Homo sapiens: one gene and its partner. The protein of the gene in region 1 interacts with the protein of each later gene in a pairwise test. Each region holds a gene or a part of one and is shown in the gene's direction. Other genes may lie near its edges. The genes, in order: JMJD1C and MYOM2.

Region 1 (3,825 bases):
TCCACTCTTTTTGAATAATGAAAGCAGCATTTTCTTGAAACTTTTAAATTTGTTATTTGGTGTTCAGACGTTAGAGTCTTGTCATACTGATTTTTGTATAACTCTGATGATTTTCAAAAAGGGTGATATGTTCTGCTTTTATGTGTCCAGGTGTATCCCAAAGCTTTGTAAAAATTAATTTGTTTTAATGTGTATGAAGTATAAATATCTAACTTTCTAAATATTTACAAATAAGAAATAGCATTGAGTTTTTATATTAGGAAGTGTGCCATAACTCCTCACAGTTAAATAGAAATTTCAGGAGAGATACATCGTTAATATTTCAGAAATTAGCAAGAGAGGGCAAGCTTGGCTTTTTAGGTCACATATATCATAAACCCTAGTTTATACTCTGTCAGTGTTGGTCAGATAAATAACTGTAGGTCCACTATTCTTTATCTGCAATTCTGAAATTCAAATAGCTGTAGCAACTACATTTTTTAATGATTCATTTGGAAGCAAAACCTGATTGACTAAACTCATTTTTTAAGTAGAGCTTAATAGGAATTGAGTATTTCTTATAGGAGAAATATTAATGTGCTCCACTTTTAGGGTTCTGTTCTAAATCCTTCAGAGATGTTACATGTTGCCTAGGAACTGTGCTATATTACCATAGTTAACTACCATAACGTAAGGACTTGTACTATATTACCATAATCAACTACCGTAATGTATGCTATAGGCCAAGCGCGGTGGCTCACATCTGTAATCTCAGCACTTTGGGAGGCCAAGGCAGGGAGATCACTTGAGCTCAGGAGTTCAAGACCAGCCTGGGCAACATGGTGAAATCCTGTCTACTGAAAATACAAAAAGTAGCCAGGCGTGGTGGTGTGTGCCTGTGGTCCCAGCTCCTTTGGGTACTGAGGTGGGAGGATGGCTTGAGCCTGAGAGGTCAAGGCTGCATTGAGCCATGATCATGCCACTGCACTCTAGCCTGGGTGACAAAGTGAGACTGTTCCTCAAAAAAAAAATAAATAAATAAAAAAAAAGCTATATTTAACTTTATAAAAATCCAATAAACTTTTAATACCAAAATATGTTGAAAGAGTTTGGATGAGGGATTGTTATTTGAATACTAATACGATTTTTGGTGGTGTAGATTTAATGGCAACAAATACTGCTAATTTTATTTGTTAGGAGATTTGATAGTGATCATATGTCTGCCTAATTTCAGATAGTTTTTCCAGTGTGGATTTTAGCAGACTTTTTTTTTTTTTTAAAGACAGGGTCTCGCTCTGTTGCCCAGGCGGAGTACAGTGGCATAATTACAGGTCATGGCAGTCACTTTCTGGGTTCAAGAGATCCTCCCACCTCAGCCCTACAAGTAGCTGGTACTACAGGAATGAGCCACCATGCCTGGCTAATTTTTTTTTACTCTTTGTAGAGATGGAGTCTGACTGTGTTGCCCAGGCTGGTCTCAAACATCTGGGCTCAAGCAATCCTCCTGCCTTCAGACTCCCAAAGTGTTGGGATTAGAGGTGTGAGCCATGGCATCCAGCTTCACACTTTTATTAGATATAAAATTCTTAATCTGACAAAGAAAGATTTAGGGATTACGTACTTTTAGTTTTACAACTGGTCTTTACTAAATTGTTAATGTTGAAACATTGTCTGAAATTATCGAATTGGATAAAATCCCTTTGTGTAGAATTTATATTTTATATTCTAGCTAGTTTACGAAATTATTATCTTAAACCCATTGATGAAAATGTTGATTTATCTTATATTGTAGAACTATTGATTTAATTATAGAATACATGGCTAAGTAGAAAAACAGCAGCTCACAATCTGTTTACTGTTTTGTCTGGCAAAACAAAACTATGCATACTGCTGACTTACGAAAAACTGAAAAGAGTTTTTGAAATCACACAATCAGTAAGTGTCAGGGCAGGAATTTGAATGCAGATTTCTGATTTCAAATCTGTTATCTCTGTACTCTGCCATATTGCTTCTGCCAATGGTTTGTGATTCACAGACTCTCAAAGTAAAAACCCGAAATTCCCTTTAACTGTAATGTTATATATTCTTTCTGAGCCCTTTCTCTTTCTTCATTTCTATAGCCCTATGGTTTAAGTCCTCTTGGACTTTTATTTCTCCTTCCTTCCTGTCTGCAGTTCCTTTCATCTTCTTAATTTGGTATTTCAAATTCAGTCCTTTGCTTACTGTTTGTTGTTGTTGTTTTAATCTTGTTATTTCCTTTGTAGAATTTACTTGTACTATGTTGCATAATTACTCACAAATCTGCAATTAAAGTTTGGCCTTTTTTCAGTTTGATCCACCGTCTCTACTGTTTGGAAGCTTTACATGAATGTCCCGTGTGTGGGTTTGAAATAGTGTTTAAAGTATAATTTATTATCTTCATGTGAAACCAGCTGCCATTTTGAGATTTAATTTGAAGTTTCACCTGGGCTTGAAAACACCTTCATCTTAAATGTTTTTCCACCTTGAACGTTGGCATTAACTTAGTTCTGCAGATTTCTTCCTTTAAATTGGAACCTGCTTTCCCGTCTCCATTCTTTTCAATTTGTACTACCACTTGCTCAAAACCTTCCTTACTTGATTTATTTGGGTTATATCTATTGATACTTACTGTATTAAAAACTAAGCTGAAATTTTTAAAACACAAGAGCAGTTTTTCATAAGTCAGCACTATGCAGACATAGTTTTGTTTTACCAGACAAAACACAAGTAGTCTGCTGCTCTGAACACTGATGAAAGAATGAATGGAAAAGGCAAATAATGTCTTAGTAGTATTTTGAGAAGTTTTTATCTTACTAATCCCTTGAATAGATTTTGTTGCCCTGGAAACATTTGGTGAAGGTATCTGTTCATCTAATTCTCTTTAGTAGAATTATTTACATTAGTATCACTAAATAGTTAAATTTTAAGTTGAATTTGGCTTCTTCATTATTTCAGGTTTCTTCCAGTATTTTCTGTGTGGCTATATTGCTTATGAAAATTATGTATTTTGAACGTAGAAGGTTGCATGTAACATGCCAGAAAATGTTAACATGGCAGTAGGAATAGTCAGCATTCCTAGAATAGATTTCAGATTTTTTCAAAGCTAGAAGAGGTCTGTGTGACTAATTCATTTCTTGTGAAAGACTGACACTTAGGAGCTGAAACATCTGATCCATCTGTTAAAGTTAGGAGTTTTAAGATTCAAAAATCTTTAGGCTCAGAGGAATATCAAAGAAGGAAGCAGTATGTTAATGTTTGGTTAAAATTATGTGTTATTTAATATAAAATGACTGTATATTTAACAGAATTTATTTCCTCTCTATATTGTGATTCTATAGATGGAATCTTGATGCAATACAGGACTAGGAGAAATATTTGTATAAGAATTTAAAGTTGATGAACTATTCCAATGTGTTGAATAACATTATACTATTATTTGGTCTATGTTCTTTTTCTTCTTTAAAATCACATTGATAAAACTATGTAGAGCCTATTTTAGAGCGTTTCCACTGTTCGCTAGAACATTTTATTGCCATAATTTTCAAAATCTCTGATCATATTTTAATACCAAAGTGAATCATTTTGAGGGAAACCATTTTACTTTACATTGTTCATGTGAATTAAGAGAGTAAGTTGTGAATATGAATATAGACTATATGTATTTCACCTTTCCGTAACGGTTTTGAACTATACAAACATATACACATAGTTATATAATAGAAATAATTATTAAGACCCTTTGAACTACTAAGTATAACAAGGAAAAAAGCAAATATGCTTACAGTTAATATAATATTGCATTAAATTTGCCTCGATTTTCTCAGT
Region 2 (3,825 bases), on another chromosome or scaffold:
GGGCTGGTGTGCACCTGCATCTTCCGGAAGCTTCTCGGGGATGGCCTCATACAGGATGGCAGCTCACGCCCCCATGGACACTGTTTGTGTAGCAGCAAATCTGCAATCTTAATGGGCTGATTGGAAGGCTGTGGTGAAGGGAGGGAGGGACCGCGGGCAGGCGTTCTGCAGCCCAGGTGCCTGCCTCATGTCACCCACACCCTATGTTTAGAAACGCTTAGGGTACTTTTATTTAGTTGCCATCCCTTGTGCCAAACAAAGCCAAACATTTGCAGCCCCTCCCAGCAGCCTTGGGGTGTCTCAAATCCCTCAAGATATATATAATCCTGGCGTGGAGCCAGAAAGACTGTGGCCGGCACTGGCTGGCTCTGAAGGGAGGTGGCACCAGCCACAGTGAGCTCAGGGAGAAAGCACCCCAGGGCGGGCATGTGCGGGGTATGGGTGTGGGCACACAGGGACACAGGCTTGGGTTTGCCTGTGTGCAAGTGTGTGTACACTTGTGTAGGTTTGTTTATGTGTGCACGCGCTGTGTGTATGCATGTGCATGTGCTTGTGGGAAGGCGTGTCCTTGCATTTATGCATTTATTTGCATACACATGTGTACGCATGTATTGTATGTGCATATGCATGCATGTGTGTGCATGTGTGCATATATGTGTGTAGGTGCATGCCTCTCATATGCCTGTGCATGTGTGTGTTTGTGTGTGCTCTGCATATACCAGTGGTTTGGGGTGTGTAGAGAGAAAGTGATGTGTGTCAGGATAAATTTCCATACTGTGCCTGAGCATGCATCTCCTAATCGTGTCCATGTTCCTGAAGGCGAGCTTCCACCCAGGCATCTTCCCAGAAGTCCTTGAGTCAGCGGTCGTCTTCACAGAGAGCCTCCAGCCAGACGTCCCTGGGAGGAACCATCTGCAGGGTCTGTGCGAAGCGAGTGAGCACGCAGGAAGATGAGGAGCAGGAGAACAGAAGCAGGTGAGCACATGGCTTCCCTGACTCCACTTGTGCCCTGCGTGGGGTCACAGTGGAGGGACAGTGGGGTGAGGAGGGAAGAGCGACCTTAGCTGAGAGGGAAGATCAAGGAACACAGGCCATGCCTGGGGTGAGAGGGAGAATGCTGCTGTTTCCCAATCACCTGCTTCTCTTTACCATCATTATCTCAATTAATCTGAACAAGAAAACTACTGGGCACCAGCTTCCCACCATTTTGCAGAAGAGAGCGTTGCTGTTCAGAGCGCTCACGCCACTGCCCAGGATTCCATGTCTCACGCATGTCCCAGCTGGGCTTAGAGCTCCAGGGTCCGTGGCTTCCAAGCCAAGCTCAGTCCCTTTCCAGACAGAGCAGGATAAGCACACATGAAAACATCAAGACCTAGCAGTGTGAGAGTAATTCTGAATTTCCACTTGCAACCTCTGTAGCTATGCAGGAACAGCCGTGGAGGGGTGCACATTCAAGCAAGGTCATCTTCCTAAGCGGGAGCCAGGGTTTTAAACAGTTGTCGTGTGGAAACTAAAGAGTTGGGAAGGGATTCTATAAATTGTCATGCTTTACATTTCAACAGAGGCAGCTCGTGGGGTGAAATGTCATGGGAATGGGATGGATTAATAAAAATGCCAGTCTTAAAATTATTTCCAGATGACGGAGAAACAGGTGGTGATATGGCTTTGATCTTTTAAGGACAAAGTGAACAGTTAAACGTTCGCGGGTGCCTTGTTTTATACCTGCTGTATTTTTTCCCTCATCTCCCCCTGCTACTTCTGGGAATTTTCTCTATATCTTCAAAGCATTTAAAACCTGAAGGAAAAATAAGATTTGAGTAAACATCTTTCATTTTGAAAGTTTCAGAAAGATGAAGTCATCTGTTGAATATAAACAATGTATAGCCAAGAAGGTTAACGAAGGTTAACATTTATTTTTAAAAAATTGAATTTTTTTAAATGTCATAGGATAATTTTGCCATGTAAATGAATTCTAGTGTAAAGTGAAGATTTCTTTTGTGAAAGAATCTCTTTGAAATGTAGATGTTAACACAATCCAGATTTTTATGTATTGGATTAAAGGGTTCTTCTACCTATATTTAGGTTTTGGGGGCTACAATAGAATACTTGAGCTTATCATTTTATTTTTATCATTTAAACATTGATGTGAACTTGAACATATTGCATAAACTTCCTATCGCTCAATTTCCCTGCTGGTAAAATGGTAACAGTGAGTGGCTTACTGTGATTCATATGGTTTTGGCAGCAATGACTTTCAAGACAGCCTTGGCTGCTGGAAATTGTCCTAAAACACATTGGTCTATGCTCTTGCAATACCAAATCTGACTCAAAGAAGGGATTTGAGTGACTGGTGAAGGGGTTATGTTCTCACGGCACCTCTGATCCTCACGTTAAATGCCAGTCTGTCTTAGACGTAGTAGAGACGGGGGACGAAGGCTAGGCACTTTCTCAGCTTTGTGTGGAGCCCACGGCTCATGCTCTCCATGAGATTTTCTTCAGCAGCCCCCGAGTGTTGTATTCTCCTAACCCATGTGCATGTCTTCCATGGGGAAGATCGTTTTGAAATCAGTTCTTTCCTCCTTTAAAGGTAAACATAAGTCGTGGGGATCTCAGTGAGTTGGGCAAGTTCTAATTGAGATTTATTGTGAAGCCTGCTCTATCACCGTCATGCAGAAGGGCCCAGGAGGGATGAGTGAGCCCCGTGCTGAGTGATGTGAGCAGCTCCATGGATTCCAGCCCTTATTAGAATTCACCACTCTCACGGGCTGCAAGCATCATCACAAGCATGTATTTATCCCTGACCTCCCAACGTGGATATTAGTTTAGCGTGCTGGACAAGTTGGTCCTTTGCAAAAGATGAAATTGTGGGCTCACTGATGTGAGTTACTGCTGATGTCCCTGTGTCAAATAAATACTGAAGAGACATTGGCGCTCTGAAGGCACTCAACACGTCCTTCTGGAAGATACGACCCCGATGCTCTGAAGGCACTCAACACATCCTTCTGGAAGATATGGCCCATTGGAAATGTCCCTCTGACATCTTCCTTCAGTCCCAGTGAAAAATGGGCCTCCCTGAATCTTGCAAGCCACCTGTCCCGGGGCTTGTCATTTACAATCAGTGCATGACAAATGACGTTACTGTGCACACGTGGGCTGAAGTGACGGTCAACTGATCATCAGCCGGCAGAAATATTTCCTCAATGTCCTGACTTGGGGTTGGCTGTGGGAGGAATTCCAGACCAATTAGTTATTCTGAATCATGGAGGGTTAGAGGATAGTGGTGCTATTGACCTAAGAATAAGCTGAGGCTCTTGTTACTCAAACATAAAGAGCCCATAGAAAAGTAAACGGTGTCAAGAGAGGACATCTGAACCTTTAAACTCATCACAGTGCTGCGTGGCGCAGACCAAGCTTTGTCTTCTCGATCCCTGCAATTTGGTGGGATTCACTCCCCTGTAAGAAGGCTTGTTCCCTGCAGGACATCTGACGCCATCGTTCATTTCTTGAACACATATTCCTAGAACTCCTCCTGGCACCTGGCACCTGGATACTGGGGAACCAAGTACCTGGATACTGGGGAACCAAGTACCTGGATAATGGGGGAACGAAGTACCTGGATACTGGGGGAACCAAGTACCTGGATACTGGGGGGACGAAGTACCTGGATACTGGGGAACCAAGTACCTGGATACTGGGGAACCAAGTACCTGGATACTGGGGGAACGAAGTACCTGGATACTGGGGGAACGAAGTACCTGGATACTGGGGTAACCAAGTACCTGGATACTGGGGTAACCAAGTACCTGGATACTGGGGGAACCAAGT

What was found.
Region 2: the proteins of JMJD1C (region 1) and MYOM2 interact in a two-hybrid assay, tested with the Homo sapiens proteins (one large-scale study listed by BioGRID and IntAct).

What each region holds. Positions count from the first base shown.
Region 1 is NC_000010.11:63,455,917-63,459,741, reverse strand, and holds part of JMJD1C (probable JmjC domain-containing histone demethylation protein 2C), read left to right. Parts: intron 1-1,029; exon of another isoform or gene 1,030-3,825. UniProt on the Homo sapiens protein: Probable histone demethylase that specifically demethylates 'Lys-9' of histone H3, thereby playing a central role in histone code. Demethylation of Lys residue generates formaldehyde and succinate.
Region 2 is NC_000008.11:2,051,339-2,055,163, forward strand, and holds part of MYOM2 (myomesin-2), read left to right. Parts: intron 1-819; coding exon 820-975; intron 976-3,825. UniProt on the Homo sapiens protein: Major component of the vertebrate myofibrillar M band. Binds myosin, titin, and light meromyosin. This binding is dose dependent.